Linked DNA regions of Homo sapiens: region 2 is linked to region 1. A link means that fine-mapping ties the variant in region 1 to the expression of a gene that starts in the linked region. Tissue or cell type: whole blood. Region 1 holds a variant in brackets; the other region holds the start of a gene. All regions are shown on one strand. Distances are between the middles of the regions.

What was found. PIP is the estimated chance that this variant, and not a neighbour inherited with it, causes the effect.
Region 2: PIK3R1 starts here. The variant in region 1 is fine-mapped to the expression of PIK3R1 in whole blood (TOPMed, PIP 0.95).

The regions. Positions count from the first base shown.
Region 1 is chr5:67,214,834-67,217,519 of GRCh38, reverse strand. No RefSeq gene overlaps it. Among named protein-coding and RNA genes, the nearest start is that of CD180, 19 kb to the right of the region's middle. RefSeq lists an enhancer at 1,381-1,620. The variant G/C (reference allele first, on the strand shown) is at 1,561.
Region 2 is chr5:68,214,346-68,217,031 of GRCh38, reverse strand. PIK3R1 (phosphoinositide-3-kinase regulatory subunit 1) reads right to left here and starts at 1,276. Exons shown (of 16, transcript NM_181523.3): 1 at 1,083-1,276. RefSeq lists silencers at 560-1,659, 1,880-2,099.

The DNA.
Region 1 (2,686 bases):
GTGTTCTGACTGTATGTGTAACAGGCACATTGTAGGTTTTCATCAGCTGGGTCTGAGTCTGGTAGGATGGGAAAGTGAGGCCTGCCTGACTTGCATAGTGAGGAAATCTTGGAATTAGAACAACACATACATAGCGGGTGAGTTACAGGGGTGGGCTCACATTTCTCGTTTTACCTTGACACTGGTTCATATCAAGTGGACTTTACTACTATTTTGAGTTCTCCTTCCTAAATTTCTAGCTTCCAGTTTGAGATTAGAACTATTTCTTCGTCACCAGGATAGCAAGCTCTTTTGTGTCTTTTTGTCTGAAGAAAAATAGTTCTCAGAGTTCCCCCTCCCATCCCACCATTCTACACACAGTATTGCCTTGGACTTGCCCTACTCCAGGATTCAGCCCCCAGGATCTGACCCACAACATTGCCTTGGCCTATAAAATTTTCATTTTGTTCCCTTTAAAAATAAATGCAGTGTTTTTATACTGAAACAAGGATGCATCCCACATGGTCAAACATAATTCAAACAGAGCAGTGTGTGTATTCAATGAAAAGTCTCCCTCCCCACACCACAGTCCCTGAGTTCATCTCCTCAAAGACAATCACTCTACCATTTTCTTGGGTACCCTTCCACTTTTCCCTCACTTGCAATGGAATGATTGCTGTTTTTATAGGAACAAAAGAACACCGTGCACACTCCTGTGCTCCTTAGGTTTTGTTCTTAACAATATTCAGTAATTTGTAAATCTAAGTGAATACATGCAAAGCCCTTAGAACAGTGCCCAGCCCATAGTTTATGCTAAATAAATGTCCCTTCACATGGGGGTATATCAAAAAACACACTGCAGCCTTCAAGAGTTTAAACCAACTAGACCCCAGGAGCACACAAGAAAATGATCCAGAGCCCAGAGGTGCTTTGTTCCACTCACATTTTCAGAGACAGAGTCCCTGCAGGCTTGGCTGTCACCTCTCCCACTTCATGTGTGGCATTTGAAGAAAATATTGCCATCAGTGCTCACCTTCTCCTAAATGAAGTCACACACCTACCTCCCTCTGATTCTGCCCAGTCTAAACAATACAAGAAATAAATGCTTCATAGTGGGTTTTGCTGCAACCACTTTCAGAAAACAGAGAAAAATCCCTTCTTGCCCTTTAATTTGATTGCATAGTAATGAAAGATAAATTCAATCAGATATAATGAGCTGCGTTGAGTCAGCATCCCAAACAGTGTGGCCAAAGCTGGCTCAGCTCTGCACCAGGTCACGGGTGTTTCTAAAGGGTCATGCAGACAGTCTCTTGCTTTTGGCCACTGTCCGAAACCTCTCCGCCCAAGTCCCTGAATTAGAGCAGAACTCACAGGTGATATAAATTCAGAAGTTAGTTAGGGCAAGGGCAAGGCATGGGGAAGAGACCAGTGAAGTCTCTGTTCCTCGTCAGAAGCAGTTCTCAGTGCAGAGGGCTTTATCTGATAGCCTGAAGAACACATCCTCTGTTGTCACCACTTTCAGTTCCCTAGCGAGGGAAGCCTGCCAGCACTTCCTGTTGTTGAACACCGAGGACCCTTTGA[G/C]GTGCCTGGGGCCACACCGGCAGCTCACAGCCACCCTGCCCAGCCGGGTCAGACCAGCAACCCAGGCGGGGCTGTGGGGCTGAAGCAGGGCAAGGGCACGGGCTCTCTGAATATTTGGTTGTTTGGGTGTCTGTGGAGTTTGGGAGAGCTCGTGACTGCATTTAGGAAGGAGGCTGGTGACTTAAGTAAACACGTGCCGCTCCAGAACAAATAGTCAAGAGTCCATTTAAATTCATTCTCCCCAGAGACTTTTGTTGCAAATATGCAAGGGTTGTGGGCTCATGGACATGTGCGCACACACGCAGGGTCTGCCCAGCAACTGAAGATGGGGAGAAATGCCATCACAGTGGCGATCCAATCTCACAGGGGAGGAAACGTGAGAGGCCTGACCCTTCCATGTTCCTCGCTGAGAGGCTTATGTGGGGTGAGGGACTGGGTCAAAACAAGGCCCAGCAATCACAGACAACTGTTCTTGCCACTGAGTCTCCGCCACATTCCTCAAAGCCCTGTGCACCTGATCCACACACCCGCATAGCTGCACATTCACGGGGAAAGGAGCCTAATTTCAGAACAGCTGCGGCTTCTTCACTGAGCCCATCGTATAAACTTTCTCAAAGGCCCTGACAACAAGAATATCAAAACTCCAGGAAGAAGTTGAGTAAACAGGTCACAGTTACCTAAAGTGGCACTCGGCCAAGCCACCTGTGCCAACAGAGATCCAGGGGATGAATGACCTCAACTGCTCCAGACCAGAGCAAGGAGAAACTTTACTGCAACAACATAATTGGGCCACTAGAGCCCTATGCGCAAACGCAAAGGCAAGGGCCAGAAAGACACCCCAAAGCATGTCCTTACCTAGAGCCGTGGTTGTAAATGCCAAGACTCAGACCAAGCTCAAGAGGAAGGTCAAAAGTCCACAGTTACTGTTCATCACGGAGGGAATGAGGGCTGTGGGCTGAGCATTGTTCCGGAGGTAGAATCGGACCAAGTCCTCTGTGCACAGATAGGGGAGAGGAGCAGGGCATAAGTTTAGAGAAGGGATCAGACACTCTCCAGAGAAGGATGGATGACAACTCCATGCAGCTGTCTGGAAAGTTCAGCGCTGTTGAGCCATTCCAGTGACTTT
Region 2 (2,686 bases), 1.0 Mb before region 1:
AGCGCTGCAGCTCAAGGGATTAACGGTGGAAGTGAGACCTTTCCGATATTAATAGCGCCCCGGGAAACAGAAGAATTCCCCCAAACCCAGTTGACACACATTCTGCATTCAACACGTAACAGCCATTCTGCATATATCCTTGCATTTCAGGCTCCAATTCTGGTTATCAAAGTGTATTTCTGTACAGGAGTGCCTGGCCAGAGGTTTTCTGTTCTCTTTGTCTTGTGATCTGAGGGGCAGTTTCTGAGCTTAGGTTAGAGCTGTGGTTTCCAGAGAATTGCCCACGATATTTTAGCTCCGGGTTGCAGGCTCCCTGGCTCTCCCCAGCCGGCTCCATATTGCTGGGCAGGTCCCTCCCGCCTCGCCCCACGTTCCAAAAGCTGGATTTCCGGGCGGTTCCAAGACCCCACTAAATATGCCTCCAACAACCTGCCCAAGCTTGGCTGGCAATAAACGCTGAGTTAGGGCCCCAGCGACCAACCGCCCCGAGGCGCACTTCCCCCACCCCGGAAGAGGAGGGCGGCAAACTTCGGAAGGCGGGGGTTAGGGGACGAGCTCCGGGGACCACCGCCGCCTCGCCCGCCCCGGGAAGGGCCCGGGCAGCGACCCTGGCTGCAGCTGGAGGGCCACGGGGGAAGGGAGCGCTCCTTCCCGCAACACGAAGGCAGCGGCCAGGGCGCTCTCCTCCGGTGAGGGGCCCCGGAAAACTGCAGCAAGGCGACAGCGGGGACCCTCCGAAGTGTGCGGTGACGGAGGGTGGGAGGAAGCCCGAGCTCGTCGGCAACTCCGGGGGCAAATGCGACCGGCGGCGTGCAGGACCAGCTCGCAGGAGGACGGGGGAAACGGGAGTCAGGATGGCGGGGATCTCACAGGACGCCGGCCGCGCGCGGGGGTAGTGCTGCCCGGCGGCCAGGAGATGCCGGAGGCGGGGAGGGCCGGTGGCCAGCCCGCTTCCCCCCGGCGGGGCTCTGCAGAAGGAGAAGCCGCTGCCAGTGACAGGAAGAGAGTCGCGGCAGCCGTGCACACATGCACCGCCTCCCCCGCCCGAGCACACACACCCGGGGCTGCTGCTGCCTACCTACCCCGCCCGCCGGCTTCCTTCCTCTGCGGGGCCCGCGCTGCAGCGGTGGCCTCCTGCCCGCTCGGTTCCGACCGGCCTCCAGCCCGGCTGCGACCCGCCGGCCGTGCCCGATCCGTGCTTGCCGTCTCCGACAGCTAGCCTGCCGCCCTCGCCGCTGCCGCTGCTTCCTCCAACTCCGCTCCAGCTGCTGGCGACTCCTCTCCGTGCGCCCGCAGCTCCAGCGCCCGGCGCTAGCCCCGCCTCCGGCCCGGCCCCGCGCGCCCCGCCCCCGAGCCCACACCAACCAGAGCCCGCGGCTCCGCCCCTTTCCGTCCGCACGGCTCGGGCCTCCGAGCCGGCGGCTGGCAGTGGGGGAGCGAGCTCAGGCCTGGCGGACCCTTCCTGCCACCGCCCTCGCCTTCCGCCCCCCAGCCGCGGGGATGCCCCGGGCGGCCGTGCCGCGCGCTGCCTCCGCTGCGGAGTGCTCTGGCTCTACACGTCCCGGGCCCGCCCGGCTGCTGGGCGTCTCCCAGCGCAGAGGCGGAGGGGTTCGGGGAGGTCGAAGACAAGTTCAGACCTCCCTGGAGGCTGGCTGCGTCTCTAATCCGAGTGTCTTTCAGCCAACCCCAGGCTTTTTCGAGCCCCTAGCGCCCCAGCAGAGTGGCTGGGGTGGGGAGGACTCGGATTCCAGAGCTCGCCAAAGCGGAGAGGCCCTGCAATTCCTGGTCTCGCCAGCACTGCCTTCCGAGTGGGCGGAAAACCCGCGGCACCCGCCTGGCGCTCCGGGGGTGAAGGAGGGGTGAAAGGGTGAACCGGAGGGACGGGCGCCCGCAGCCTGCCGCTGGCTAACTCCGGCAGCCTGGCACCGCCGCCTCCGGGAGCCAGGCGGACCCGCGAGAAGGGAAGAGAGTTTTCTGAGGGCGTACGCTGGCTGATGGCTTCTAGTCCTGAGATGACAGAGCAAATGGAGGTCACTCAGGCAGACCACGGGCCCCTCGGCGTTCGCGGAGTCGGGGGCGGGGTTGGCGGGGGGTGGGGTTGGCGCGGGCGGGGGGGGCGGGGAAGCGCAGGTGAATTACATTGTCTCTTAAAGGTGTTAGTTTTGAAATGCATATTCTTCAAGTAATAATTACCTAAGTTGCTCCAGAAAAATTTGATGTTGGTTCAAACCTTCCACTGATGGTAAGATGGAATGCCAGCACCACGTGTGCCACTCTTTCATATTAAAACATGTGAGAATCTGCTTCCTAAAAGCTCTTTCCAGATTCTCCTTTCTGCAGCTTAAAGCCCTGCACCCGCCCACCCTGTTTGCCTAAAGCCCTTTTATAGTTCCCTCCCAGTTTCCTTGCAAGAAAACTCTTAAAAACAAACACACAAAACCTAAGCACTTGGCCTCTGTAAAACGTTGAATTTGGTGGTTTATTCTTGTGGACGTTGGAAGTAGAGGGAAGAACGTCCTAAAATTCATCGCTTATCCTTAAAAAATATCATTTTTAAAGGTGACTCACCTAACAGAAAAGTAAGCTCCACTTTAGGCTATTCAGACACTGGTGTTTCTATTATTCCAAGATGTCTCTTGCAGAGGCGACACAAAAACAGGCAGCTACCCACATCATGTTTAAGAAT